Linked DNA regions of Homo sapiens: regions 2 and 3 are each linked to region 1. Evidence: fine-mapped expression QTL. A gene starts in region 1. Each other region holds a variant in brackets. All regions are shown on one strand. Distances are between the middles of the regions. Region 1 holds the start of ACSS1 (acyl-CoA synthetase short chain family member 1). Region 2 has its middle 7.5 kb from the start of VSX1. Region 3 overlaps ACSS1 (acyl-CoA synthetase short chain family member 1).

The links. PIP is the estimated chance that this variant, and not a neighbour inherited with it, causes the effect. A credible set is the group of variants that fine-mapping cannot tell apart.
Region 2: its variant is the best candidate, but not a certain one, in a credible set for the expression of ACSS1 in whole blood (TOPMed, PIP 0.73).
Region 3: its variant is the best candidate, but not a certain one, in a credible set for the expression of ACSS1 in thyroid (GTEx, PIP 0.65).

What each region holds. Positions count from the first base shown.
Region 1 is chr20:25,053,107-25,063,402 of GRCh38, reverse strand. It overlaps ACSS1 (acyl-CoA synthetase short chain family member 1), which reads left to right and starts at 5,264. Exons shown (of 14, transcript NM_032501.4): 1 at 5,264-5,634. The coding sequence starts at 5,301. It overlaps LOC124904882 (a long non-coding RNA gene), which reads left to right. Exons shown (of 2, transcript XR_007067555.1): 2 at 33-441. RefSeq lists enhancers at 4,783-5,388, 6,039-6,168 and silencers at 5,009-5,538, 5,669-5,938.
Region 2 is chr20:25,084,532-25,094,827 of GRCh38, reverse strand. No RefSeq gene overlaps it. Among named protein-coding and RNA genes, the nearest start is that of VSX1, 7.5 kb to the right of the region's middle. RefSeq lists an enhancer at 10,195-10,296. The variant G/A (reference allele first, on the strand shown) is at 5,696.
Region 3 is chr20:25,027,338-25,037,633 of GRCh38, reverse strand. It overlaps ACSS1 (acyl-CoA synthetase short chain family member 1), which reads left to right. Exons shown (of 14, transcript NM_032501.4): 3 at 6,676-6,875. Among named protein-coding and RNA genes, the nearest start is that of ACSS1, 26 kb to the left of the region's middle. RefSeq lists a silencer at 947-1,241. The variant T/C (reference allele first, on the strand shown) is at 6,092.

The DNA.
Region 1 (10,296 bases):
CTCAATTTTTTTTCTCATCTCTTTATCTATAGGTAAGCTTGCTTAAAAGAACTTTGGGTGGCCTGGTAACTTCAGGACGCTTCGCCAATTACCAGAGGAAGTAAGGCTTGCCCAAAACCGAGCAAACCAGAACCAGTGGCCCCTGTCACCTTTAGATCATTAGCATATCATTATAATGCTAAAGTCCCCACTCATAGAAGAGAATCATAGAAGAGAATCGTTGCCACTTTCTGCACACGTGTCGTATGAAGAGCCTGTTCATGATCTGCACCTGCGTGTCTGAAGTTCCTCCCCACATAAGCTTACATAGCTCCTGCCCCACATCTAACCCTGTTACATTCCCCAGCTCCCCACCGCTCTGGAAGAAGCTGTCTTTAGAGCAAGTGCTCTCTCCTTCTCCATGCCTGGCCGGGAATAAAACCTGCTTTTCCTTTTCCCCAATCTGGTGATCTTTCTTTGTAGCTGATGCAGAGTAGAGAAAGAACTCAGTGAACTGGTGACGAAGCCAATTCCAGACTCCCAGCATCTGGGTCCTGTACTTGATCTGAGCTCTGCCATGCTCTTCTAAATTCTGTGTTTTGGTTTTACTGTGCATTTCAGCTATTTGAACAGTGTCTGTCTCTCCCCAATTTGAACTGTGACCTGCTTGCTTGCAGGGACCAAAACTGGACCGTCCTTGTCCAACTGAGAGCCCTCAGCTCTTGGTGGTGCACATGGGAGAAGCTCACAGGTTTCTTCTGAGTGTCATTGGAAAGAGGTGTGTGTGTGTGGGGTCACAGAGACAAATGAAGAGAACAGGAAGAGGGAGAGATGGAGGAGAGAAGAGGAAGGGAGGGTTTTACCAGCTCTTTGGAGACCACTGAGTGCACAGGGAGTGGTTGGGGATCCGTTATCAGCCAGGACTGTTTCTTGAGCATCTGAGCACTGCGACTCTGGAGTAATGGGCATGGCAGGAGCTATGAAGGCAAATGGCGAAGGCCGTGTTGGTGGGCTCTGTCCCTAAAGCTGTTAAATTAAGATGCTCTGGACGCTATGGCTCTGCTACCTACTAGCTGGTGGCCTCGGGTGAGCTTCTGTCCTCCTGCTTATTTTCACACATGTACAGCAAGGGCAAGAGCATTCACTGCTGCAGGTTGTAGGGTCAGTAGTCACAGCTGTGTTGGCATTTCTGGCCTAAACATTAGTACCGAGACAGAAGCGAATCCCGGATTCCCAAGAACCCTGCCCTCTAAGCACTTCGTGTGTCTGCAGCCCCTGCCTGACAGCATCCAGCGTTCCAAGTGAGCTCTCCTGAAGTTGAGGCCAGCGGCTTCTTAGGGAGAAGATGTGACCAGCACTGCCCAGATAGCCTGCTGCCCTGTCCAAACCTCTGAGGGTCCTTCGGGATGCAGGGCCAAGAGTGGGTGCTCCTTGTGCTTGTTCAATCTTGTGCTTGTTCTGCAAGAGTTGATGACTGGCTGCCAGGAGGGAGGCAGTGGGGACGACCTTGGCCTGGGCTGTGACACTCAGAAGGAAGGTCTCAAGGCCACCTCTAGGTAACTCGGGCAGCAAGAAGTGCAGTTCTGCACCACCTGGTTGGTTCTGACATGTTTGGTTCTGAAATGATCACTTCTTCTTATCCAACCAGAAGGAACGAGGTAGCATTTATTTTAAAACAGAGTTAGTTCTACCTACTTTTCTCATTGCAACTGTAGAAGACCTTAGAAACGAAGGTAGTAGGAAGAAGGAGCCATTGCCGTGCACTCTCCATGGGGTGGCTGTTGGTGCCAGGCCCAGTCACAAGCAGCATAGCTGGTCTCTTCTCTCACAGGGCTCCCTCCTGGTAGGAGGACTAGGAAGATAAACACAGAGCTAATAAGTAACAGCCATGGAGAAAAGTCAAGTCAGGGGTTGAGACTAGGGAATGAGGGCGGAGGTATAACTTTATGTAGGTGACAGGGAAGAAAGGGCTCTTGGATGAAGGGATGTTTGAAGACACCTGAAGGAGGTGAGGGGGAGTCTCTGTGGACAACTGGGTGGAGCATTCCAGGCAGAAGGGACATCGTGTGGCAGTCCTGAGGTGGGAGCCTGCTGGGTGATGGGAAGGACAGGAGGAGGCTGATGTGCTGGAGCCCCAATGAGTGAGAGCAGAGGAAGAGGGTACACTGGATCAGGGAGGGCAACGCTTCTCTAACGTGAATGTGCATGCAGCTCCCCTGGGGCTTAAGATGCAGATTCTGAGGCAGCAGGTCTGAGATGGAGCCTGGCATTCTGCATTTCTACAAAGTATCCAAGTGATGCTGCTGGCCCATGGACCACACGTTAAGTAGTGAGGCTATGGCCTGTGGGCCAGGGAATGATGTGGTCTTTGTTTTGAGGAGACTGGGGAGCCTTTGGATTGTTCCAAGCTCCAGAGCAAGTTCCTCTGACTCTTGTTTTAAAGGAATTGCACTGGCTGCTGGTTAGGCTGTCAGGGGCAAGGGTGAAAGCAATTTGAAGCCTACTGAATAATCCTAAAAGAGATAGGTATGGTTAGGATGGTAGCAGGAGGGGATGGTGATGGGGGAAGAGGTTAGTGCTGCAGGTGTTCTGAAGGTGAGTCACAGGATTTGCTGACAGGCTGCATGTGGAGTGTGAGGGGGAGGAATCTAGGATGACAAGGGTATGAGCCCAAACAACAGGAAAATGCCATTTCCATTCACTGACATGGAAGATCCGTGTTGTGGGGAAGAATCCCAGGACTTGGTATGTTTCAGATGTGAATGAGACATTTGAATACAGGACTGAGATGTGGAGGAAAGGTCCAGGCGGGAGGTGTCAATATGAAAGTGAGAGGCTAGAGAGCTGGCTGCTGTTTCCTAGGGGGCAGGGGAGAAAGGGGGATTTGAGGGCTGAGCTCCTGGGCACTTCAACACTTGGAAGGCAGAGAGAAGAAAGGCACCCAGTACAGGGCACTGAGAGGCAATAGTCAGTGAGTGAAAGAACCATGCATTTTTCAGCCTCAGTTGTTGTATCAGTTACCACTGCTGAGTTACAAACCATCCCAAAATTTAGTGGCTTAAATTTATTCCTTCTACAATTCTGTAAGTGGACTGGGAGGTTCCTTTGCATCCCAGGTGTTATCTGGGGTGACTCATGAGGCTGCCTTGGCTGGGACAGGAGCCTCCACATTGGCGTCATTCTTGTCTGGGAGTTGGTCCTGGCTGTGGATGGGACAGCTTCATCCTCGCCCTGGGTCCCTTCCTCTGGAAGGCCAGCCCCGCTTCCTCACAGCTCGCAGCTGGGTTCCATGGGAGGATAAGCTGGGGCTACGGGGTCTCTCAGGACCTCCACATGGAACTGTCACAGCATCCCTCCCACCAGGCTGTACTGGCCAAAGCAATCCAGCCAGCCAGGGTCCTCCTCTGGACAGAGCAGCACACCATCATGTGCAGGCGGTGCAGGCGTGGGAAGGAAGAGTTGGTGGCCGTCTTTGGGACCCCCTGCCACAGTTAGGAGCTTTCTCAGTTTACAATTTTACTACTCACTGACCTCTGCCTCTCAGTGCCCTGTACTGGGTGTCTTTAATATTCTATTCAAATGAACTTAGGCCAACGAGCTCCCCACTGGGGGCACTGGGTGTTAGTCTTGCTCTTCCCTTAGCCAGCTGCATGCTCTTTAGTAAGTCCTTTTATTTATTTGGGCTCAGTTTCCTCATTTTTTCCACCTGGAGTTTGACAGTTGGTGGGAATGGACAGCACTAGATAAGTTTCAAATTAAGTAGACTAGTCGGGTGCCGTGGCACACGCTTGTAGTTCCAGATACTCAGGAGGCCGAGTCAGGAGGATCGCTTGAGCTCAGGAGTTCCAGGCTGTAGTGAGCTGTGATGGGAACCATTGCACTCCAGCCTGGGCTACAGGCCCTATCTCTAAAAAAGTATCATAAATAAATAAAGGAGAAAATGCAGGTCAAGCGCTAGCACTGTGCAGGGCATGTGTTATGCTAGTAGATGTCACTGATTCTCCAGCTCTAGGTACACTCCTGTCTTCTCTGGCAGACAGCAGCATTCCCCAGCAGGGGCTGGTGGCTAGCCCACGCAGAGGCTCCTCCAATGGCAGGCTCCTCCCCTCTGCAAGCCCTACAGCTCAAGGGAAAGAAACTTTCCCATCACAGAGAACTCAATAAACCAGTTTTCCAAAATCTCTCTTCCCTGTGTTTACCCGTTTGTTATGAATTTACTTCTTGGGTGTCAGAATATTTAAGAACTCGGTGGAGACCAGTTTTATACGTTTCCTTCTGTCCTTCCTGGCTCCACAGCTGCAAAAACATCATCCCCACTACTGAGCTTACTATGGGGCCACGCAAGGGTAGACGCTTGACAGACATTGTCCAATGTATTCCTTACTGCAGCTGCCCACCCCCGCCGTCCCCGCCCCCCAGGGAGACATTACTTCCGTCTTCCCCAAAAGGAAAACGAGGCACCGAGAAGTTAAGGAACTTGCTCAAGGTCACAGAGTTTGAACTCAGGCTACAGATGCTGCAGCAACTGGAGAAAGTCCTCATCGCCCCATATCACCCACCACCGACCCCCAGCAGGACGTGACCCCCGCCAGGACGGAGGCCGGCAGCTGGGGGGCTGGAGCATGGGACCCAGAACACGGACTCAGGCTTGCGCAGCCTCCTGGCTTCTAGGCGGGAGCCTAGAAAGGCGCCAGCCCCTTTCGCGTGCTGCTGAGACTCCAGGGGTGGGGTTCACTCTCAGGGGCGCACAAAGGCATGAAAACCTTGGCTTCAGCCTCTGAGATGCGGAACTGACCGACCTATTGTCTTGGGACCCACCAGTGCGCTTGGGTGCACCAGCCCCCTTAACGTTGGTGCCGGCTCCCTCCCGGCTCCTCCCCATCCCAGAGGGTCCCCTCGCCCCAGGCCCTGAGCCTGCGTCCTGGGGTCCTGGGCCGCACGTGCCTCTGGCAGCTCGAAGAAGCTGTCGGGGCTTGCAGGAGAGCGTGCAAACTGAAACCAAAACAGGCCGACTCGAGGAACATCCGGGTGGGACCGCAGACTCACCGGAGCGCAGCGCCTGGGCCAGGGCCTGGGACCCTGCTCCGCCCCGCGCTCCCCTGCACCCCTTCCCCACGCTGCTCCCCTCTTCCTAAGCGGCCCCCCCTCTCCCGGGCAGCAGAAGAAGGGGTGGGACCCGGGCGGGCTCCGGGAGGGGGCCCTGGAGGAATGGATGGTGGCGGAAGGGCGGAGCAGGGGCGGGGCCCGCGGAGACTCCACGGGGCGCCCCGGGCGTGAGGCACCCACTCTGGGAGCACAGAGAGCTCAGGTAGCCTGCCTAGATGGCGGCGCGCACCCTGGGCCGCGGCGTCGGGAGGCTGCTGGGCAGCCTGCGAGGGCTCTCGGGGCAGCCCGCGCGGCCGCCGTGCGGGGTGAGCGCGCCGCGCAGGGCGGCCTCGGGACCCTCGGGCAGCGCTCCCGCAGTTGCAGCAGCAGCAGCACAGCCAGGCTCGTATCCCGCGCTGAGTGCACAGGCAGCCCGGGAGCCGGCCGCCTTCTGGGGGCCTCTGGCGCGGGACACTCTCGTGTGGGACACCCCCTACCACACCGTCTGGGACTGCGACTTCAGCACTGGCAAGATCGGCTGGTTCCTGGGAGGCCAGTTAAATGTCTCTGGTGAGTGGGCTTCGGGAGACCCAGGACGCCCCCAACTCTTGGGTCCCGAGGGGACTCGGAGCCTCTCGCCAGCGGCAGCCGTCCCCGGGCAGCGCGGATCGCAGCCCTGCAGGGGCCCCTCCTCCGGTATTCCGTCCGCCCCGCCCGCTCTAAGCAGTGGCTCCACGTCACCCCGTCCCTCATCCCATCGGGCCCCAGATCCACGTGCCCAGCTCGGGCCGGCGCCCGCGGGGACCCGGCGGCCGCTTGGGACGCCCCGCTGCTGGCCTTGCTCGGCGCGGCTCCTCGCTCGGCGGACTCCAGAGTTGCGTTACCGGGTGCATAGCGCCGCTGAGCAAGAGCCGGCGGGGAGCCGCGGGCTACACCCGAGCGCCCCGGAGTCGGGACTTTCCCGTTCCCATACCGGGGTGGAGGGAAAAACAAAGCGGTGGCGGTTGTCACTGCGGGCTGCGGTGCCCGGGGATCAGCCTGGGGACAAGCCCTGCCCACGTAAACAAACAGAGCTGTGGCGGGCGACCTGGGGAGGAGGAAACTCGGCGTGGCAGCTGGAACCAGTTATTTCTTCGCTGCGGGCCTGGGGCCTGGGGCCTGTGGACGGGAAGGAAGTAACGGCGGCCTCCCCGTTCTCGTTCTCGGCCTCAGAGAACTGCACCCCAGCGACCTGGGGCCTGCTTTGGACCCGCGGGGTCTGACGTCGGCCCCAAACAGTTGACTGGTGGTCAGTTGTTTGGAACTTGCTGAGCAGAGGCCCTGCTGCTCTGCTAAGATTTGGGGCTGGGGGTCGTACACAGCACCCTCGCCCCCACCTAAGGCGCTGACTGGGCACCGAGGGGGAGGCCCTGAACTGCAGGCAGGGCTGGCCACGCAGGGTGGGTGCCAAGTGCGAGGTGGGCTCCGGATGCAGGGTGGGCCTGGGTGTGGGGCCTGCGGGGAGGGGCTGGCAGACACGGTGTTGATCAGAGGGATGCAGACCAGAAGGGTGGTCATAACCAGCTTGCTGGATTTGGGAGTGTTTAAGAAAGGACCTGCGGGTCTTTATGGCAGGGTCACCAGGGCCCCATTTTCTCCAACTCCTCCCTCAGTTGTCCTTGTTGTTCTGCCCCCCCAGCCCTCAGTCTCCTCATTGTGAGGATGGGGGCAGTCATGCTCAGAGGTTAGGCTGAGTGCTGCAAGGTGTGCAGCAGACCCAGCGCTTACTGGTGACCCATAAGCAGTAGCGATTTTAGATAACTTCAGAAATAGTCATACAATTATAGATAGTGTCTTGCAGTTATTTTTCAAAGAAATTGGAAGGAACTTTGGACCTCCCCCACTCCCCGAAATTGTATATTACTTTGCTGGTTTAATTAAAATGAGTCACTTACTAGATAAGTGTTTTCTTTAACATTGAGTCAGCAGCAAGTGCCCTTGAACTAGTGGGAAAAAAACCAAACCCTTTGGTTTGCAGAGTTGGGGCAATGTGCCCTTGAAGGAGACTAGAGCAGCTTGCCCAAGGACAGAGGTGGAAAGTGACCTGCTCTGGACTTGTGAGGCCAAGGTCATGGGGAACATTCACAGTTGGCCTGTGCACACTTGCAGCCCCACTCAGATAAGACAGTGGGGCGGACCTCCTGGGGCCAACAGCAAGGACCTTCTGAACCTCGCTCGGTCAGGATCAGGGTGTGGTCAGCAAGCATTCTTCTGTCTCCTTTTCCTTCACTTATTTCTTCTGATAATATGGCCTTTATGGCTACGTTAGCCAGAAATTGAGCTTCAGAAAACTAACTTGAAAAACAGCTTTTCAGCAGCTTTCTCCCCTGGGATGTGCGTGCCCTCCTGTTCATGGGTCAGCAATATCTCTTTCCTTTGCCGGTGTCTGCAAACCATAGAGAAGACAGTATGAAAAAGGGCCAGGCCAGGCCATGACTCTTCTGGGAGCATCTAGAAAGTCGTGGGATGGATGAGAACACTTTGGTCTGATCTGTCAGCTGTGTGTGATAAAGTCAGATGGCTTGTTCCAAAGGAATATCACTCTTGAAGAAAGCTTCACCTCACCCCCTCAAGAATACCAGTGGTTCTCAACGCATGGTCTTCAGACCTGCAGCATCAGCATTACCTGAGAACTTTTGAGAAATACAAATTCTGGAGCCCATCCTGGACATCTGGAATCAGAAACCCTGGGATGGGACCTGACACCTGTGTTTATAACGAGCCCTTCAGATGCTCCAGAGGACACTCGGGCTTGAGAACCACTGGCCTGTACGCCTCAAACCAGGGCAGATGAAGGCACTTCTAAAACAGAATTGGGATTAGTGTCCTGGCCTTGGCCCTATTAAACAAACAGCAAGCAAATGATGGGCTGTGGATGGCGCAACACAGTTTCGTGGCTCCAGGTGTCTTTAGAATCATGACTCGGGTTGATTTCTTGCTTTCCCTGTACTGTACTTTGCATGTTTCCTCATCTGTAAAACAAGGGCCGTATGTAACTGAATTCTGTCCTAGTTACTATTGATGTACATCAAACCACCCCTAAGTTTAGTGACACAAGATAACAACAATTTTATATTCCTCGCAGAGTCTGTGAGTCAGGACTTTGGACAGGGCCCGATGGGGATGACTCATGTCAAAGGGCAAAATTAGGACAAATTTAGTTTAAAGACCTTACTTCACTTTATTCGTGATTATAGAATTGGGAAACACCCCATTCCATAAAACAGAAGGAATGTTTGATGAGCTGAACAGAGGAGGATGGTTTTATAGACAGAAGGGGCTGAAGGATGCAGACATGGAGAACAAAAAGTGGACTGGTTATTTCAAAGCTACTTTTGTTGTAAAGGTGAAAGTGGAAGGAGCTCCCTTATCATGCCAGCTTGTTTGGAGATTTAGCTATCTTTCACTCTCCTTGTTTCTTAGAAGGTCGGATAAACAACTTAGTTTCCATTTGGTGACACCGCACTTTAGCAAGAGTGACTCCATTTTTGTGTGATCTATTGGGCCTCATGCAGCTCAGTCCAGACCAGTGGCCTCCTATACATTTTATTTAACACTTGCTCCTGCTCCTCAGTGTCTGAGGTTGGAGTCATCTGCCTGTTTCTCACTCCCAAGTCTGGAGCCTTGTTTGGGACAACTTGCAGGCTGGCTTCAGCCAGAACTGTGGCCCAAAGCACCTCCTGGGGCTTGTCACAGCATGGTGGCTGGGCCCAGGCAATTTCCTGCAACCAGAGGTCCAAGAGACCAGCACAGATGTTATCAGGCATCTTCCGACCTGGGGAAGGGGACCTGAGTGTTTGCACCTGTTTTGTTATCCATGGGAGTATCTATCAGCACACCCATCCCAGGGCTGTTAGAATGAAATGAGGAAATGCTTGTAAGGCACTCAGCACTTTCTTAACACATTATACATCCCCAGTCACTGACTATTTGTTATTTATTAATGAAGCATGTGGGGAGGCTGTGACCTTGTGCTTGGCCTTCGGCAGTGCTGCTGAGAGAGCTGAGCTTCATCTGAACTGGACCACATGGGCTTGCATCTGATCAGCCTGGGATAGGTGGGGAATAGGCTTCGGAGAGCATGCAGGTGGCTGAGGTTGCTTTCAAAGCTCCACAGTATCCTGCCCATCCCACAACTCCAATAGCCAGTTGAGGTTATGGTGTCTGAGACTCACTGGGCAGGGTAGACAGAGTGTCTGTGCCCTTCTGTGACTTGCTTCTATTGTGTAAAACTGCCTTGCAGAAGGTTCTTTGGAGAGCCAGGTTCTAAAAGGGATTCTTTCCCACCTGTGAAATTTGGCTCTGTCCTTTGTAGGGCTCTGCAGCTCTTTTTGCCCTGTGGCATATCAACTCAAGATGTCAGGAAGTTGTAAATGCAGAACCAGAGGGTAATGACATGTGTTGCTTTCAAAACACACAGCTAAGCTCTATTTTTAAAACCCCCAATTTTAAGTGATGTTTTTCAGTGTGTGTACTCTTAAGCAAGAGTGTAAAAATCCTCTTTGTAACCAAGCATTGAGCACTGGGAAATTTCTTGGATGCTTTTTGGAGATTAATTGCAGGAACAGAGGCCCTTTTGCTGTAGTTCCTCTGTGTTTGCTGTAGTTTCCTCTCTGTGGCATGCCTCTAATCGTTCAGAAGGCAGGACACTGACAGCGGCAAGACGCTGTGCGCCTGTGCTTCATTTTCCTCCTAGTGATTCCAGTGATTAAAGTAACTTTTCTAAGGTTTTTCAGGGAACTCTACATGAAAAAGGAACCCCTAATCTTAGGAGGAGGATCCTCCCGAGGAATCCAAGTCCTCCCCAGCTGTCAGGGGCACGACTTACTTTAAATAACAGATGCTTTGGGAAAATTGTCCAAAACAATTTTTGTGACTGACGTAATATCTCAAAGCCTGCCAGGGAAGATTGCTATTAAAAGAAAGTCCATTGTGGGCCAGGCGCCGTGGCTCATGCCTGGAATCCCAGTACTTTGGGAGGCTGAGGTGGGCAGATCGCTTGAGCCCAGGAGTTTGAGACCAGCCTGGCAACGTAGTGAGAACCCCATCTCAAAAAAAAAAAAAAAAAATTAGCCGAGCGTGGTGGTGCATACCTGTAGTCCCAGTTACTTGGAAGGCTGAGGTGGGAGGATCCCTTGAGCCCAGGAGGTGGAGGTTGCAGTGAGCTGAGATCACGCCAGCGCACTCTAGCCT
Region 2 (10,296 bases), 31 kb before region 1:
TGTGATAGATTACATTAGCTGATTTTTTTTTTTTTTTGAGACAGAGTCTCGCTCTGTTGCCCAGGCTGGAGTGCAGTGGTGTGATCCTGACTCACCGCAACCTCCGACTTCCAGGTTCAAGCAATTTTCCTGCTTCAGCCTCCTGAGTAGCTGGGATTACAGGCACCTGCCACCATGCCCAGGTAAGTTTTGTATCTTTTTAGTAGAGATGGGGTTTTACCATGTTGGCCAGGCTGGTCTTGAACTCCTGACCTCAAGTGATCCGCCTGCCTTGGCCTCCCAAAGTGTTGGGATTACAGGCATGAGCCACTGCTTCTGGCCACATTGATTGATTTTTAAATGTAGAACCAGGCTTGCATACCTGGGATTAAATCTGTCACCCAAGCTGGAGTACAGTGGCACAGTCATAGCTCTAGTCATAGCTAGGAGTCATGAACTCCTAGGCTCAAAGGATCTTCCTGCCTTTGCCTCCCTAGTAGTGGGACTAAAGGCATACAGCACCATGGCTCGCTATTGAATTTATTTTTATTTTTAGATACAGGGGTCTTTCTATGTTGCCCAGCTGGTCTCTAATTCCTGGCCTTAAGCAATCCTCCCACTTTAACCTCCTGAGTTGCTGGGATTACAAGCGTGAGCCACTGTCCCTGGCATAATTCTTTTTATACACTTTTGGGTTAATTTGCTAATATTTTGATGATGATTTTGGCATCTATGTTCATGAGAGATACTGGTTTGTATTTTTCCTTTCCTGTAATGTCTTTATCTAGTTTTGGTGTTAGTGTAATGTTGGCCTCATAGAATGAGTTAGGAAGAATTCCCTTTGTTTTTATATTTTGGAAGAGACTTTGAGAATTCGTATTATTTTTTCCTTAAATGGTTTGGTGGAAGCAACCAGTGAAATAACCTGGTCTTTAGTGCTTTATTTTTTGAGGGCTATTACTTATTAATTTAATTTCTTTAGTAGATATAGACCTACTTAGAATATCTATTTCTCTTTTTGTGAGTTTTGGTAATTTGTGTCTTTCAGAAAATTGATCCATTTCATCCAGCTTATCAACTGTATACATATATTTGTTTATAATACTTCCTTATTATCTTTTTAATGTTCATGGGATCAGCAGTGATGACCCTTCTTTTATTTACAGTATGAGCAATTTGTATCTCTTTCTTTTTCACTTAGCCAGAATAGAGGTTTACTGATTTTATTGTTCTTTTCAAAGAATCAGCTTTTGGTTTCATTTATTTTTTCTAATGATTTCTTACTTTCCATTTTATTGAATTATTCTCTAATTTTAAAATTTATTTTCTTATATCTACTTTTGATTCAATTTGCCCTTCTTTTTTTCTAATTTCCTAAGTTGGAAGATTGGATGATTGATTTAAGAGCTTCCTTCTTTTCTTTTCTTTTTTTTTTTTTTGGGAGACAGAGTCTTACTCTGTCACCCAGGCTGGAGTGCAATGGTACCATCTTGGCTCACTGCAACCTCTACCTCCTAGGTTCAAGCTATTCTCCTGCCTCAGCCTCCCAAGTAGCTGGGACTACAGGCGTGCACCACCATGCCCAGCTGATTTTTATATTTTTAGTAGAGATGGGGTTTCCCCATGTTGGCCAGACTGGTCTCGAACTCCTGACCTCGGGTGATCTACCCGCCTTGGCCCTTAAAGTGCTGGGATTACAGGCATGAGCCACTGCGCCCGGCCCTTCCTTCTTTTCTAGCAAATGAATTTAATGTTACATATTTTCCTCTAAGCACTGTTTTCACTGCATTCCACACATTTGGTAAGTTGTATTTTTATTTTCATTAAGTTAAAAATACTTTTTAATTTTTCTTGAGACTTCTTCTTTAATTCTTATGTAAAATAGAAGTACATTGCTTAATCTCCATATATTTGGGGATTTTTTTTTCAGCTTCTGGTAGATTTCTGTTTTTGACTTCTAGTTTAATTCCACTGTGCTCTGAGAACATATTTTGGATAATTTCTATTCGTTTAAATTTGTTAAGGTATGTGTTATGGCCTCGAATATGGCCTATTTGATGAATGTTCCATGTGATCTTGAGAAAAATATGTATTCTGCTGTTGTTGGATGAAGTACTCTATAGACGTCAGTTAGATCCAGTGATAAATGGTGCTGTTCCTTACTATACCCTTACTGATTTTATGCCCACTAGATCTATCAATTACTGATAAAGGAGCGTTGAAGTCTCCAACTATTAATGCAGTAAAGAATTTTATATAGCTTATATTTTCCTTGCTGTTCTATCAGTTTTCGCTTCCTGTGTTTTGATACTCTGTTGTTAGGTGCATGCATCTGAAGTATTATGTAAACCAAAAATAAAATTCGAAGGCCCCCCACTTCCTTGCAACCATCTGAATGGGCTCCCTCCTTGGCCAGGGCACTCTAAAATTTACCTCCTACTTGAAATGAAAGACAAGAACCCTCAGGACCCGAAGATGTATGCTCAGCAGTATGGGAAGTATGTACTCAAAGTTCCTCTAAGTGTGTGAGAGGATGAAGAGCATAAACCACTGCAGAATCCTTTCCCCTTTGGCAGACAAAAGACTTGACTATAACGGTAGTTTAGGAATAAAATGTCTCAGCATTTGCCATTTCCTGTCTCTACAGGGAGCTGAACTTAGGATAGTGGCCTTTGTTGTGTCCAGGAAGGGCTGATTTAATGCATGTGGTGGCCAGTGTCTGCGATGGATGGGTCTTCTTCATTGTTGTACCCTCTCCTTTCTGATTTCTCCTTCTCTTCCTCCACTCTTTCATGAGCATTTCTCTGACCGATCTGAGCATGTCCGGTTATTAGTGTGTTAGGGGGAGTGAGCTAGAAGAAGAGTCAGTAATCAGACAAGCATGCTGCAACCCTCCACTCAGGGTGATGGACTGGAGGTACTGGGTCCACACAGATGGCTGCTGCAGCCAACCCTGCCAGAGTCCCCAAGGTGCCCTAGCCATGCTGCCGCTTCTGCTAGCCTTCATCAGTGAAAACTCAGCACAAACAAAGCAGTTTCAGGGTGGCAGCTCAGTGACATTCATTTCCACACTTTTGTTGAAACCGGTGAGTGAAACAGGTTTGTAAATTTCTCAGCCTCTTCTTCTAGTATTTTGTAAAATATTCAGCTTCTTCCTGCAGGAGGGCAGTCCCAGGGCTGGGCTGTGAGAGTCTGATGTTGGGGCGCCTTTCTTTCCTCTTGAGCACTCAGGTTACAGTGGATGACATGCTCCCAGCCAACCTTCCTTGGACCAGGCCTTGAGCATGGGGACAGGACTGGGGAGAGGACTCCAGATCTAATGTGGAGTGAATGGGGAAGAGCTAAGTTTCTCCCAGGAGACCCCGTCAGGCAACAGGCATATGGTTCAGACTCCTCCATCTTATGGCCTGTTCCCCCGCTGCAGACCTTCACTAAGCACTGGCTCTGCACCAGGAGTGTGCGGGGCCCTGGCATGCAGGGGCCCCAGGCCAGCCCCAGCCCTGCTCTGGAGCTTATGGTCAGTCTAGGCTTGGGTTCTGCACAGCAGACTCTGAGACAGGGATTTGAGTGAAGTAAGTAATGTGGGAGGAACCCAGGAAGTTCTAGTAGGGGAGGGGCAGGGACACAGAGAAGCTGTGACAGCAAGTGGCATTTCCCAAGGCTCAATCACACCAGGACCTCGGGTGACTATGCAAGGTGATTTCTCTTCGGGATTTTCCTACCACAGGATCATTGCACCCCTTGGCCAGGTATCATCCATCAACCCCTGTCATCTGTCAAGAGTGGCTGCTGGAGGCATCACCCTCTGCCCCCCAGGACTTCAGTCCTAGCTGGTGCACTCCTGGCTTTGGGGCATCCTCCGCTCGAGTGGCAGGTGCTGCAGGCAGGAAGCTGTGGTGTGTGTGTGAACTGTCTACAGAGGCTGCAGGCGACCCGGAGGGCAGCCTGCCAGCACTGTCAGCTACAGCATCCGGCAAGGCAGATGGGTAAAGCAGTAAACCAGCAGGTGAGTGAACGGTTGCAATTGTGGCGGATGCCTTGGAGGGAGCTGACTGGGAGTTGAGCACAGAGGGAGGAGCAAAGACCTCCTTCAAATAGGGTCATGGCCGGTGCCTGCCTCCTTGGAGTAAGTAGGTCCCCAGCAAGCAGAGGCAGGAACCCGCAGTCACGCCACCCTGGCAGAGTTGTTCTGACCTTTGCCTAGAGCCTCGGTGCTACCTGTGAGCTGGGATAGTGATCACATTCACTTCTAATATGAGCTGGTTAAAAGCACATTATCATTGGCCAGGTTTCTCAATTGCCAAGAGATGACCTAGTGCTTGTTTAATACCAGAAATGAAGCTCAGCAGCAGCTCTTGGGCTGTCCTTCAGCGGCCCCTCACATGCCCAGGTGTGACCTTCTGGTTAGGGTGGCCTATGTCACCTCCCTCTCACCTTCTTGATGTCCACACAGTGCACCTGCTTTTGTCTGCCATGGGGGAGAGGAGGAGAGGCAGATCCTTCTGTGCCCTCTGCTCATGACCTTTTCTGCAGTGGGGTCCGAGGGTGGGCTTAGCTCAGGGACTGGATGGTGTGTCCTCTCCTAAGCTTAACTTGGCTCTGGGTTCCTTTGTCTTACAGATGGAACTTAACCAGAAGAAGCTAAGGAAGAGAAGAGAGGAGAGGAGAGAGACAGTGAAGAGGCTGGAAAAGGAGGAAGAGAAGTATGTTCTTTGGAATCAAAGTGTTACCTGGATTCCTACCCAGGATTTTCCTATTGTCTCAGGACCTAAAGGGAAAAGACCGGCCATGGGGCATGTGAGCCTCTGGGAAATCTGCCTCAAGCCCATAATGCCATCCGTCTACAGCAGTTGGAACAGTGTAAGAGTCAGACCTCGCCAGATCCCAAGCGCTGCAACATGAAGAACAAAACCAAGGTTAAGCCACAGACCAGGCCCCGTGGAGATTTCGCTGCTTCTAGCCTGACCGTCAGGATTTGGGTCCTGACCGCTCCCCTGGCTGTTGGGCTGGTCCCAGCTCTGGGCCTCCGTTTTCTCACCCACAGAATGGGGACGATACAGGACCTCCCTCATCAGAGCTGTCACAAGTGGTAAGTGAATGGGTTCGTGAGAAGCTCTGCAGTGCCTGGCGCAGACCAAGGGCCCCACCGATGGTGGCTGTGAGTTTTCCCACTAATGTATTTTTTGATATGTAACATTTTAAAATAAAATTTTCTCTTTTCTTTTTTCCTTCTCCTTTTAGAACCTCAATTTCCTGATTCCCTAAGCTCATGTCTGGTGCTGACTATTATCTTAGTGCTGAACTCAAGCTTTCCTCATAGCTCCTCAGAGCATTTGAGAATAACTGGGTGTTTCTGCACCCACAACATATTTGTAAAACCAGTCAGGATATATGGTTCATGAAGCATTAATAGAAGATGTGGTTCTCAAACTTGAGTGGGGCTCAGGGTCCTCTGGGGGGCTTGTGAACACACAGATCATGGGTCTCCCCAAGGTCTCTGATGTTGGAGGTCTGGATGGGGTCCAAGAGTTTGTTTTTCTGGCCAATGCCCAGGTGGCCAGAACCACTTTTGGGAACCACACTTTGAGAACCACTGGCACATAGTAAGGAGGCCTCTTCCAGAGGCCACCAGGGAAGTCACTGTCCTGGAAGGTAAAGAACATTTGTCCAGGGGATGTGTTAATGAAAAGACTCAGTTCTGGGCTCCTGGAGCCAG[G/A]TAGGAGATGAGAACAGACACAAAAGAACTTAAGAATAAGAAAATAAGACCAAAGGAGCATCAAGTGCTTCAAGAGTGCAGCAGTGATTTTGTTCCAGCTGGGGCAGGAAAACCTGGGGAGGCTCTGCGGTGAGGAACCATTTGGGCTGGGCGTTGATGGGTGGCTGAGCACTGCTTGGCGCCTGGCCCTGCAAGTGCGATGTGGTGGGTCCTGTGTCCCACCTTGAATCTGTGTCCTGTCCTTGAATCTGGTGGCTTGTGGCTGCTTAAACCAGTCAGCAGGGCCAGTGCACACTAATGCCTTGGGTACAATGCCCAGGGCCTATGCTTCTAATGCCATTGAATATATTTTAAAATCAGAAGGAAAAATGAGTACAATAATAAAGAATATACAATAATGAATCTAGACTGGATTATATTCACCTTTATGCCAACATAGGCACAAAATACAACTTTAAATATTTTTATGGAAGAAGGGGCCCATGAAAGCAGAAGTGCCACTCCCCCAAAACTCATGCTATGGCCTCGCTGACTGAACGTGATGGAAGTAATGCTCTGACTTCTGTGGAAGGGCCAGCAAAGGCTGTGCAGCATCTGCCTGGTTCTTGTGGGATGCTCCCAACTCCCCGAGAGCCCACAAGGCCAATCAGCCTGGGCCATGTGAGCGGGCTGCCTTGAGCACCCAGCACAGCCCCGTTGAGCCCTCAGATGACTGCCACCCCAGACAGCAACCACAGGAGGGCTCTAAGTGATAATGGCCTGCTGAGCTCTCCCCAGATTTTTGAGCCACAAAACTGTGACCAAAATGAAATGGTTTGTAAGTAGCTGAGTTTTGGGATAATGTGTTACCTTAAAATAGTAACCGGAACATCCAGCCAAGAAAGGGAACTCGGGGGCTGGTGCTCTCATGGGGCTGATGAGAGGATGGACAACCCTGATCTCCGCACCCTGGGTCAGTTTTATAGGATATACCACATTGCTGACTCTCAAGAGCCTGCTTGTTCACTGATGAGCTGGGCATGTGATACCATCACTTCTTCAGTCACTAGCAGGAAGGAGTTAGGAGTTAGCATTGCCCATGTGGCAAGGGGAAGCCATTGAGGAAACTGCAGTAGGGAGCAATAGGCTGTGCTCAGGCAAGGATCACTGTGGCTGTGGAATAAAGATGGCAGTGGTGGGGTATGGGGAGGGGCATGAAGGAGGTAGAAGGAGATTCCAGAGGGCAGAGCCCTGGCCATACACCCTAGACAGGGTTATTGGATGCAAACCACAGAAATGTCACCCAGCCAATTTACACAGAAAATAGCCTTACTGAATGGCATTGTTTCTCCCCCATACACCCCCTCCCCAGACTGATGGACAGCTGGAGAGGAAGGGCAGGGATGTGCAGCCCAGGCACCTGGGAACAAGGCCAAGTCACCACAGGGCACAGCAGTGAGTGTGCCATAGCATGCAGGGTAGCCACGGGACACCCACCATTGCTGCTGCAGAAAACCCTCCCTCTCCTTTTGTCCCTGGGTCAAGGTCACAGAACTGCCAAGGAGTGGGACAAGGAGGACTTTACCTGCTGTTTTTTTTCTTTCTTTCTTTCTTTTTTTTTTTAGAAGCCACCTCTTTAGGGTACTCTGAAACTCATTTGTATACTGAGTAGCCCTAGACTAAAAAATAAATTCCACTCCAGCAAGTGAGCAATTGGTCTGAGCCATGTTGTGGCAATGGGTGGTGTCATGGTCTGTTCTGTGCTGCGGTAACAGAATACCACAGACTGCGTAATTCATAAACAATACAGGTTTATTTGGCTCATGGTTTGGAGACTGGGAAGAAGTTCAAGGTCAAGGGACCACATCAGGTGAGGGCCTTCTTGCTGCCACATCACATGGTGGAAGGTGTCACATGGTGAGAGAGGAAGAGCAGAAGAGGGGGCGGGAAGGGGCCAAACTCATGTGCCCACTCCCATGGTCACTAACCCACTCTCACGATAACTAACCCATTCCCACAATAACTAACCCACTCCTGCAACAATGGTATTGATCCACTCCTCAGGGCAGAGCCCTCCTGACCTAATCACTCCCTAAAGCCTCCACCTCTCAACACTGTTGCATTGGCGATTAAGGCACAACACACGAACTTCAGGGCACACAGTCAAATCAGAGCAGGCAAAGGAAAGAAGATGCCACTTTGAGAGGGTTTGAAGAGAGATGCAGGGCAGCAAGACACCCACAGTCAGAGTTAGGCCGTGAGCTGACACTGCTTGTATTCAAATCCTGTCTTTGCCACTGGATAGTGAGTGACCTTGGGCAATTTATGCAATTATTTAATCACTTGAAATTTTCACTTCCTCATCTGAAGCATGTGGACAATAATATTATCTACCCATAGAGCTGTGGTCAGGATGAAATGTGGCCATTGTGATAAGGTGTTTATAATAATAGCTGCCCCCCAGTAAGAAGCCAAGAGAGGTTGGCCATCTTCATCACTTTCAGTCGTGGGAGGAGAGCCTGTGGGGAGAGTGAGGGCCTGAGGATGACACTCGATTCTGTGTGGGCCCCGGGGTGGAGGAAGAGGAGACCTGGGGAGGTGCAGGCTGCAGGGGAGGCTGCTGTGTTCAGCTCTGGGTGTGTTGCATTTCAGTGCCCCGGGAGACTGGTTCAGACATGCAGGAGTACATTGAGACAACAGCCTGGGCTTCAAGAGTGGGGTCCAGATTGGAGAAGATTCCAGAGATCTGGGCAGGGAGATGGTGATTGCCCCGTGGGGTTCCACCTGAGAAGAAAGAAGGGCTCTGTAGACTTTGAGCTGAGCATTCCAGGAACACCCAGGTAAAAGCGAGATGGAGACAGGAAGTGTCTGAGCTCAGGTGGCTAGAAGCAGAGCCAGGGACAGGGTCTGGGCGCCTGAGAGATATTGAGACAAGGTCTCAGGAATGAGGGGCCAAGATGGGGTGGGAACAAGCTGAGCAAGGAGCTGACTTGGTCTGATCCATGAAGGGAGAGGGTCTTGTAGCAGAAACGCCTCTGCAGAGCTGTCCTTTGAAACGAGAGGAGAGGCCTCCTATCATCCCTCTGTCAGTTGATGACACAGTGTGTGTGTTTGTCAGGGGGTGGGGGGCTCTGGATTAAGGGGCTTTTGTCAGCCAAGGGCAATTCTTCCTATTCGAGGGCCCCACACTCACAACAGCTGGAAGAAGGTGCGACAGTTCTGGAAAGGGGGTCTGGGTAGGCACAACAGCATTTAGATACGAGGCAATATGGAATGCAATCATCAGCAAGTAACTAAAGCTCCTCCTGCTTGGATCTCTGGGAGGCGGAGTAGAAGGCACCTCTAAGAGTCACTCTGTGCAGGGGTGTGTTTGTGTGTGTGTAGCGGGGGGTGCTTACATTGCAATTCCCGTCAGTGTTTGGTGTCGCATTTCTCCACGTGTTAATTATTGGCACCTTTAGCTAGTGGGCAGAGTGAGCTCTGAAGGTCGAGAAAAGTCCCCAGGTAAAGATGTGGCGGGCACTGGAGGCTGGGCAGGCGTGCAGTTGGAGGGGTCAGGCTGGAGGTGGGTGGGGCCAAACAGCCTCTGCCACAACTTTTTTTTTTTTTTTTTTTTTTGGAGACGGAGTTTCACTCTTGTTGCCCAGGCTGGAGTGCAATGGCTCTATCTCAGCTCACCGCAACCTCCGCCTTCTAGGTTCAAACGATTCTTCTGTCTCAGCCTCCCTAGTAGCTGGGGTTACAGGCATGCATCACCATGCCCGGCTAATTTTGTATTTTTAGTAGAGACAGGGTTTCTCCATTTTGGTCAGGCTGGTCTTGAACTCCTGACCTTGTGATCCGCCCGCCTCGCCCTCCCAAAGTGCTGAGATTACAGGCGTGAGCCACTGTGCCCGGACTTTTAACTGAAGACACAAAAGCATCCGAGATGGAGCAGCCAGAGGTGGGAGGAAAATCAGAAGAACGGAGCCGTGGGGGGTCATTTCTGCAGACTCACAGGGCGATCCGTTTCACCTTCTCGGGGCATCCCACCCCATTGTGTCTGAGCACTTTATCGCGCCAGCCTGGCCAGCCGCGGCTCTGAGAAGCCCAAGAGGGGTGCCTGCTGAGCCACTCACAGCAGGTCCAACCTCAGCCTGGCGCTGCCAAGGCACATTCGCGGTCGGCGACAGAGGGGCTGGAAATCTTCCTTAGAAAATAATGAGCTGAGGAACCTTTATTCATTAGTTAAATCCCGGGTAATCCTGGCTGATGAAGACAGATTCGGAACCCTCAACGGATTTAGGGACCCAAAACGACTCCTGGGGGCCGCCCGGGGCGGGAACGTTCGCGGGAGCTGCGCCTCTGGCAATAGATTTGCAGGTGGTATCCGGTAGGGGGAAGCTGGAAGGAGCCCATTCTTTTGGCCGCCAGGACGCGGAGGCTTCCCCTAAACGCGGCCCGTAGGTTTGGCAACTGCGAGGGCACCCCGGGGACACGAGGATTGTGGGTGGATCGTGGGCTAGCTTTTTATCTCTTGCAGACGTCTCCTAAACGGCAAGAAGCGCTTCCCTGGTCTTGGCTGACGCTGAGTGAAGCGCCCGTATAACTTGACGCTGGGCTCTGGGTGGATCCCCACCACA
Region 3 (10,296 bases), 26 kb after region 1:
ACAGCATAGGAATGTCCTTTCAAGTTTTGGATCTAGACCATGGAGTTGGCCTTCCCCAGCCCCCATCAGCACCGGTGCTTGGAGAGAAGTGACTGAGCCTGAGGAAATGCTTTGTGTCTGTCAGAGGCCTTCACATATCAAGACAATTACCTGGGTTTACTTCCCTTATTGGCAGAAGAAAATGAAACGTTTCTGTAGGCTGGTTTCTCAGAGGGGGTCCTTCCCATTTGCTTCTCAGAGCAGCAGCACATCTTCATGCCAGCGTGATGCAAGGTGACAGCAGCCTAGCCCCTCAGGGGAAGGAGGACACAGGGTGTCTGCAGGGTGGGTGTCGCTCTTGGTGGAGGTCCTTCCCACTTCATGCTCACCTGCTGCGCCCATTTGCTCAACAAATATTTATTGAGTACCTTATATGAGCTAGGTGGATGCCAGGAGGAAGGCAATAAGCAAAACCCAGATCTCTACCCAAGCAGACCTTGTACTTGATGGACAACAAAGAAGTCTGTTAGCTAATGTTTATTTCATGAATACTGACTGCCAGAATAATTGTAAGCAATAAACAATCATGCATTCTCAATTTCTTTCTTTCCCTCTTTCTTTCTTTCCTTCCTTCCTTCCTTCCTTCCTTTCTTTCTTCTTTCTTTCTTTTTCTTTCTTTCTTCTTCTTCTTTTTTTTTTTTTGACAGAGTCTAGCTCTGTCACCCAGGCTGCAGTGCAGTGATGGGATCTCAGTTCACTGCAATCTCCACCTCCTGGGTTCAAGCGATTCTCCTGCCTTAGCCTCCCAAGTAGCTGGGATTCAGACATGCAGCACCACGCCTGGCTAATTTCTGTATTTTTAGTAGACACAGGGTTTTGCTATGGTTGGCCAGGCTGGTCTTAAACTCCTGACCTCAAGTGATCTGCCTGCCTCAGCCTCCCAAAATGCTGGGATTACAGCTGTGAGCCACTATGCCCAGCCTTAATTTGTTTATTTCTTAAACACGAGAGCACACACAGGACTTACTTATCCTGGGCCTTCATCAGGAAATGTCTAGGAGGAAAAGACACTTTCAATATTAACCGTGACAAAACTAGCTCTGATTGAAAGACAGATGAAAAAATAAATACCAGTGTATTTCTTCCTCTCTTTTCTCTGAACTCTGTTTCCAGCTGTTTCCTGTTTTGGACTAATTTTAAATTCTGAGGCGGGGGGTGGGGGGCAGGGGTGCAGTTGTACCGTCTGAGTTCAGGCAGTTATCGTGTTGGTCACAATTACTTGCAGTCAGATTGTATCTTTAGCATTGGATAAAAGTTATTCCCAATTGATGTTAAGAGTTGGTAATAAGTCTTCTTCCTTCCCCAAGGCCAGTCAGCGTTTTCCTAGTGTTAAGCACCAGGAACACAAGGCCACATTTGTATTTTTGTGCACATCATTTGCATACGTCTGCACCAAAAGCTTGACCCGGCAGAGTACACTGCAGACAAACCTAAATATCCTGCTCAGTACCTGAACAACAAGTGTTATATTTCTTCTTGGACTTAAAAGTAAAACTCTAACTCATTTTAGTGACTCAGAAAGCTGCATGTCCCCGTGCTTTGGAAACCCACTAGGGTGCTACATAAGAGGATCCTGCAGGTAGTGAGGAAGCCACTGTTTCCTGCAACTGTAGCCCAAGGCACCAGTCACTGAGTGGCTGCATTATCTTTCTGATACAGAAACAGTAACATTTCGGTTTGTGGAAGTCTGAGAAATTATGAATATCCAAAAACATGCTTTCAAATGGTTCCTGAGTACTTGGAATGGCAGGATCACTTACTTGAACAACATTTATTTTTCAATGATTTGAAGACCTAGGTTTGCTGACCATATTTTCCAATAATATATGTCTGGAGGATATTACTAATGAAAAATGAGAGTTTAAACTTAAAAATCCAGGCTTCAAAAATTGGCTGGGTGTGGTGGTTCATGCCTGTAATTCCAGCACTTTGGGAGGCCAAGGCCAGTGGATCACTTGAGGTCAGGAGTTCAGGACCAGCCTGGCCAACATGGTGAAACCTGTCTCTACTAAAATACAAAAATTAGCTGGGTGTGGTGGTGCACGCCTGTAGTCCCAGCTACTCAGGAGGCTGAGGCAGGAGAATCCCTTGAACCTGGGAGGTGGAGGTTGCAGTGAGCGGAGATGGCACCCCTGCACTCCAGTCTGGGTGACAGAGTGAGACTCTATCTCAAAAAAAAAAAAAGTCACCTGGAAAGATGGGGAGAAATTGAGATAGAATTAGATTGGGATAAATGGAAAGCCTGCTTTAAAAAAACACAAAACATTTCCATGGCCATAATAGGAGCAAGCCCTAGTTAAAGGGCATCTGTTACATGTATTAGGAGTTGGGAGGGTGCAGGTTAGTGACCTCATGTTGAATTTGAGCCACCTGTCAGGTATTTTAAAAATGCATATGGTCGGCCGGGTGCGGTGGCTCACACCTGTAATCCCAGCACTTCGGGAGGCCAAGGCAGGTGGATCATGAGGTCAGGAGATTGAGATCATCCTGGTGAACACTGTGAAACCCCGTCTCTACTAAAAATACAAAAAAATTAGCCAGGCGTGGTGGCGGGCACCTGTAGTCCCAGCTACTCCGGCTGGGCTGAGGCAGGAGAATGGCATGAACCCAGGGGGCGGAGCTTGCAGTGGGTGGAGATCGCGCCACTGCACTCCAGCCTCGGCAACAGAGCGAGACTCCATCTCAAAAAAAACAAAAAACAAAAAACAAAAAATCCATATGGTCGGCCTGGCGTGGTGATAGCTCATGCCTGTAATCCCAGCACTTTGGGAGGCCGAGGTGGGTGGATCTCCTGAGGTCGGGAGTTCAAGACCAGCCTGACCAACATGGAGAAACCCCGTCTCTACTAAAAATACAAAATTAGCTGGGCATGGTGGTGCATGCCTGTAATCCCAACTACTCGGGAGGCTGAGGTGGGAGAATTGTTTGAACCTGGGAGGTGGAGGTTGCAGTGAGCTGAGATCGTGCCATTGCACTCCAGCCTGGGCAACAAGAGCGAAACTCCACCTCAAAAAAAAAAAGGTTAAATATAGAATTGAGGTCAAGGGTCTGGGTACCCACATTCAGCTCTGGGCAGGCACCATGAGAATGTGGGGGTCCATTTGGAAGTCTGGGGGTGTCTACTGAGATCGAGTGCCGTCATGGAGGGCTCGACCAGAGAACCTGGGGAGGAAAAGCTTCCAAGAGGATGAGGGGCAAGGAGTATTCAGGAATTTGAAGGGCTGTCATTGAGAAATTAGATTTATTCTGGGAAGCTTTAAAGGTCTGAGGTAGGACTAAGGGGTGGAGTTTGAAGAGCTGCAAATCTTGGTCCAATTTTTGGTAGACTGTTTCCCTATTAAAGTGACAGAGATGTGGCCCCATGAGGTGAGCTCTGGCAGTGTGATGATTAAGTAGAGGCTGGACTGCTGTAGGCCAGAATGTGGCTGCCAGATTTCAGAACCTCAAGGAGGCTGCACCGCCTGACGTCCAAGGATCCTTTCCACTTCAAGGTTTATGACCTTGGCAGAGAAAATAGGAAGGGAGAGAGCTCTGAGATTTACCGGATCAAATCCTTCATCAGGAGCCCCTCCTCTGGACTCAGCAGCAAGAGTGTGAGACTCACCAGACCCTGCTTCAGCTCTTGGGCCCATGTTGAGGCCCCTCAGTCTTCCAGGGAAACCTGGTCTCTAGACCCTCCCTGGAGGCTGTCGTTTAGCTGTCCAGCTTCAATGACTGGGTGACTTCTGCCCCTATAGGGAAAATCCACTCTTCTTTCTGCCCCAGTCCTCCTCCCAACAGCCAATCTATCCAGAAAGCTCTCCCTGCTGCCCTTCCCTGCCACCCCCAGTGGCTGTACCACCAAGTTGAGCTGCTCAGTGCCCTGCACACCTTCACATGTGCCGTCATTTCCTCATCGGAGCTGTGCTCCTGGAGGACACTCTCCCTGTCAATTCCTTTCTCAAATGCAAACACCCCACTCACTCCCAAGGTGCCTAGAATGGGATTTTTAACATCTCAGGAATTCACTGAAGTGAGTTAGCTGGTTTTTGTCATTTTAGAAAACGATTTCAAACAAAGATTTCTGAGAATTTCCATCTGATGGGAAAGACGATAGCTACTGAATGTTTGGCAGAGTTCCAAGTCAGTCTTGCTTTTTATTAATACTTGTGACAGCTGTACAAGGTGGAGGGTGCTTGCTGTTTCTCAGATGGTCACATGGCAGCTCAGAAAGATAAGCTCCCATGTCTAGGCAGCTACTACAGAAAGCTACCCCAGGCCTTTCTGTAGGGACAGTCCAGTGTCCTTTCTTGGCTTCAGATTGCTGCCCTCCGTCTGCAGAACAGGGACTAAATTTCATCGCCATTTAACTGGTGAGCATAATTCAAGCCTTCATCTCTGGTAGCAGCGAGGCTTAAGCTCTCAGAGCTATGAAAACGGAATCTGGCTGAAGATGTTGAGTGACTCTGGACCACGGCTCCCTCTTCAGCCGGTCACAGGCCACCCCAGCCTCCTCCCCGGAGTAGCAGGAGTGTTTCTGAGCCCTAGATTCTGTAGAGCTTGGTGCTGGGGGTTTTCCGGGGGAGTGTTCCGTCTTTTATCATAAACCTTGGCAAGGGGTGCGTGGGTGGGGCGCCACTGAAAGGCGCCTTTGTCCTCCTTCTGAAAGCCTGAAGGGAAAACGATGAAATCCCACAGAAGAGGCCGCTGGAGCCAGGCTGGGCAGGCGTGCTGGCTGCGGGGAGAACTGCGGGCTGGCCTTGCGATCTGGTTCTCATGTGGTCCCCTCTGCAGATGGCCTTGGGAAGAAACAAAGGCCTCCTTGAGGCCCCTGCCTGTGATGCGGACAGCTCATTTTCATTCTGCTGTGGTTTCCCGGGTGGCCTCGTTGAGCTTCACTGTTCTCGGGAGCCCTTTCCTTGACTACCCTTTGAACAGAGGAGAGCTATGCAAACACGCTGCGAGCGGCCTTGAGAGCCCGAGGAGGGTCTGCTTTCTGGGCCCCTGCAGAGGGCAGGGGTCGCGGGCTGGTGGTCTGCCCCGCCCAGAGAGAAAGGGCCTTGGCTTCCCCTCATTCTTCGTTCTGTGTTAGCTCTTTTTATTGCAAATAATTAATTAAAGTCAGTACAGCAAGAGTGGGAAAGTGGTTAATGCAATTGCCAGGTCCAGATTCAGAGGGATGAGGCGCCGAAAGGAAAGACAACCTTGGGATCGCTTCCACTTCCTCCACTTCGCACCGCATGGCCGGCAAGTTGGCGGCTCTCGCCTGCTCCCAGTTTTCCCGGAGTTGAGTATGGTTGACTCTGACTGGACCAGGTTGGGTCACGTGTCGGCCCTGAGCCAATCAGCTTGCCCAGAGAGATGATGCGCCCTGAGTGGTGGGTGAACCTGGTGATAGGCCCCAGAGTGGCCAGAGAGGAAGGGCATGCGCACACCATAGACATAGGCAACGTGGTGGACGACATGGGGGCTGGGCGGGGGTGCTGCTCACCCACCTTGTGCCCAGTGCTTTCCCTTCCCCTTGTCCATGGTCCCCTAGCTTGGGGAGAAAGCAGGGTGCTTGCTCTACCCGCCAGTGCTGTCTCGGGGCTGCAGGGAGTTGTGGCTGCCCTGCTTGCGGTCTTCACTCCCAACTCACTGTGGCTTTGCAGAGCTGGAGTCCGCCCTATCTGGGCTTGGGGGTCTGCTCCCTGAGAGCATTATTTGGTGCCCCTCGACTGTGTTGATTCAGAAATCTGGGACCTGTTGTTTCTCGACTAAATGTCTTATGAGATCAGTCTTTCTTTTGGAGGCAAACATTTTCGGAAGTTTTGGAACCATGATGATCTATGCCTCAGACACTTGTGGTCCCTGAGAAGCTGCTGCTGGAAAAAGGGGTCCCCATCCGGATCCCAGGAGAGGGTTCTTGGATCATGCCGGGAAGGAATCCAAGGCGAGTGGCAGAGCGCAGTGAAAAGAGATAGTTTATTGAAAGCTTCTCAGTTACATAGTAGGGCATCCTCAGCAAGAGGAGGAATGCCTCTGTTTTGTTTCTTTCTTATATAGGGGTCTTATCTATGTAAAAGCTAAGCTA[T/C]GTCTCCCTGCGGGTAGGCTGACGAAGTGACATTTATTACTTTGTTGATTGAAAGAAAGCTATCCTTGGCATTTTAGTGCATAAGTACATCAAAGCATGCCTATAATCATCTTAAAAGCATATATTATGCAATATTGGGGCATCTGGACATTCTGTTGTTGCAAGAGTTTGTCTTTGCAGGTATTAAGCTACTTCGTCAGCTGTAAACATCTTATGACTGTGGGTCATGACTGGCAAGGAATGTGCCTTGCTAGTTTTAAGATGGAATTGATTCTAAAATGGTGTCACCATGGCTCCCCTACGCTCCTGTTCCCCTAAAAAAACCCTGCCGTAAGCGGACTTAAGGATAGCCTTGTCACCCTAGCAATGTGGCAGTGAATCTCTGCCAATAGCAATCTACAAATGTTAAAAACTTTTCTTTTTCTGGAAAAGTACTTTCCATGCATTAAGTATTCAAGTGCCTGTTTTCCTGGCACTGGGCTGGATGTATATGACATAAAATTTGCAGTATTGCTCCACCCCCAAACTGCTCTGCATTTTGGCCCTCCTCCATCTCTGATGGCTTTCTCTTCCCTGTGCTGCAGGGAACTACTGGAGACCACGTGCCGCCTGGCCAACACGCTGAAGAGGCATGGAGTCCACCGTGGGGACCGTGTTGCCATCTACATGCCCGTGTCCCCATTGGCTGTGGCAGCAATGCTGGCCTGTGCCAGGATCGGAGCTGTCCACACAGTCATCTTTGCTGGCTTCAGTGCAGAGTCCTTGGCTGGGAGGATCAATGATGGTGAGGAGGTGGGCATGGGGAGGGAGGAACCCTGGAGTTCCCTGATCCTTGTTCCTGGGGGCCTGGCCATCAGTGTAGAGACCATCAGAGTGCAGACATTAATGTCACACAGACAAATGACAGATCGTACTAGGGACAGGCACATGGCCGAATGAGAATTTGTTCTGTGGGCTGAGATCTGAGTGCATTGGATTTAGCCAGGTGAAAAAGGGACAGTTCCAGTTGGAGGGAACAGCAGAGGCACAGGCCAAGTGGAGGAGGAGCACAGCATGAGGGCCTAGTGCAGGTGGGTGTAGTGCGGCAGGAGGGAAGTGTGGAGGTGGGATAAGGCTGGAGATGCACAGGGAAGGTTCCACAGGTCAACAACTGGAAGGCTTCTATCCTGAGGAGTGAAGGTGTGGACCATATTTGGGGATCTGGAGTCAGGTGAAGGGGGTCTTTCTGTCTGCATGTGGGTCAGTGTGTTTTGGACATTGTGCAGAACAATAACTTCCTTGTTTTGCTGTTGTCAAAGGACTGAGTGTCTGGATGGTGGCCCTATGTCCATGCAGTCTGATCTCTGCACCCTGCTGTCTCCTAGAGGGAGTCCCTGAGCTGGCTTCGCAAGGCAGGTGCCAGGTTCTAGGTGCCATTGAGAATTCTTGTGCCTCATAGAAAATAGAACTAATGGGTAGAGTTCTCAGACTCCTGTTGACCTCCCTCTGTATAAAAGGCTGGGAAGCCCTTCCGCTTCCTTTCAGAGTTTCTTCCCCCACGTTCAAGGGTGATGCTGCTACCTCTTTCTCTTTTTCTTCCTCTCTCTAGAACTCTGTAATACCAACTGTGTACCAGGCACTGTTCTAAGCACTCTACAAAGGTTATGTCCTTTAATTTACCTTACTCTTCATAAGTATTTTATGCAATAATACTATTATTATTCCCCTCCCCTAAAATTACTGTTGTAACCATCTTAAAGTGTACAATTCAGTCACATTAAGTACATTCACAGTGTTATGCAGTCATCATCAGTATCTAGTACCTGAAGTTTTTCATCACTCAAAATGTACACTTTACACCCATTAAGCAGACATTCTCCATTCATCCATGTTGTGGCATGTATCGGTATTTCATATTTTTAATAGGTGAATAATATGCATTCATTGATGGCCATTTGGGTTGTTTCCATTTTTTGGCTATTGTGAATAGAGCTGTTATGAATGTTCATGTATAGGAACACCTGTTTTTAATTTTGGGGGTATATACCTATGAGTGGGCTTGCTGACTCATGTGGTAATTCCATGTTTAACTTATCAAAGAACTGTAAAACTGTTTTGCTAAGGAGATGCACCATTTTACATTTCCACTAATAGTGTATGCAGGCTCCAGTTTCTCTGCATCTTGTTGTTTTTCACTTTAAAAAATTACAGCCGTCATAGTAAGAATGAAGTTGTATCTCATTGTGGTTTTGATTTGCATTTCCCTAATGACTAATAATATTGAACATCTTTTATGTACTTGTTGGCCATTTGTATGTTTTCACTGGACAAAGTCTACTTAAGCTGTTTGCCCATATTTTAATTGCTTGCTTGTCTTTTTGTTGTTGAGTATGTAAGTTACTTATATATTCTGAATATTAGACCTCTATCAGATATATGATTTGCAAATATTCTCCCATTCTGTGGGTGGTCTTTTCACTTTCTCAGTAGTAAACTTTGGTGTATAAAAGTTTTAAATTTTAATGGAGTCTAATTTATCTATTTTTTATTTTGTTGCTTGTGTCTTTGCTGTATTATTTGAGAAAACATTGCCAAATCTAATGCTGTGAAGATTTTTTCCTATGTTTTCTTTTTTTTTTCTTTTTGAGATGGATTCTCGCTCTGTTGCCAGGCTGGAGTGCAGGGGCATGATCTCAGCTCACTGCAACCTCCGCCTCCTGGGTTCAAGTGATTCTCCTACCTCAGCCTCCCGAGTAGCTGGGATTACAGGCACGTGCCACTGCATCGAGCTAATTTTTGTAGTTTTAGTAGAAACAGGATTTCACCATGTTGACCAGGATGGTCTCGATCTCTTGACCTCGTGATCCGCCCGCCTCGGCCTCCCTGTTCGTATGTTTTCTTCAAAGAATTTAAGTTTTACCTTTTTACATTTAGATCTTTAATTTTGAGTTGATTTTTGTACAGGGTGTGAGGTAAGGGTCCAGTTTCATTCTTTGTCCTATGGCTATCCAGTGGTCCCAGCGCCATTTGCTAAAGAGGCTGTTCTTTTCCCTGTTAAATGGACTTGGTACTCTTGTTGAAAATAATTTGACCATATATGTGAGGGATTATTTCTGGGCTCTCTATCCTATTCCATTTATCCATATGATTACCTATGTATCTATTATTATCTCAGTATCAAACTGTTTTGACACTGTAGCTTTGTAAGTTTTAAAACCAGGAAGCGTGAGTCTCCCAACTTTGTTCTTCTTTTTTCAAGATTGTTTTGGCTCTTCTTGCTTTCTTGTATTTTCATAGGAATTTTAGGATTAGCTTTTCCATTTCTGCAAAAAAAGATGTTGGGATTTTGATTGCATTCAATCTGTAGAAAAATTGGAAGGTATTGCCATATTGACAATATTAATCCACAAACATGGGATATCTTTCCATTTATTTAAGTATTTTAAAATTTCTTTCAACAATATTTTGTGGTATTCAGTGTACAAGTCTTGCATATCCTAGGCTAAATTTATTCCTAAGTATCTTATTCTTTTATGAATTTTTATAAATGGAATTGTTTTCCTAATTTCCTTTACAGATTGTTCATTGCTAATATGTAGAGATACAGCAATTTTTGCATAGTGATCTTGTATATTGCAAATTTAATGATTTATTAGCTCTAATAAATAGTTTTTTTGTGGATTCATTAGGATTTATACATAGTAGATCATATCATCTCTGAATATAGTTTTACTTCTTCTTTTCCAATTTGGATGTCTTTTATTTCTTTTTTTTTTTTTTTTTTGCCTGATCACTCTGGCAACAACTTTGTTTACAATGTTGAATTGCAGTGGTGAAAAGTGGGCATCCTTGTTTTGTTCCTGATCTTAGGGGGAAGGCTTCAGTCTTTTACCATTAATATGATGTTAGCTGTGGGTTTTCAGATGCTCTTTATCCATTAAGTTCCCTTCTATTCCTAGTTTTAAGTGTTTGATCATCAAAGGGTGTTGGATTTTGTCAAATGCTTGCTCTGCGTCAATTGAGATGTGTTTTTTCCTTCATTGTAGTAGTGTGATGTATTACAGTGATTAATTGTTGCATGTTGAACCACCCTTCCTTTCCTAGGGTAAGTCCTGATTGGTCATAGTATATTCTGTTAATATGCTGCTGGATACAGTTTGCTAGCATTTTGTGGAAGAGTTTTGTATCATTGTTTATATGAGATATTTGTCTGTAGTTTTCTTTTC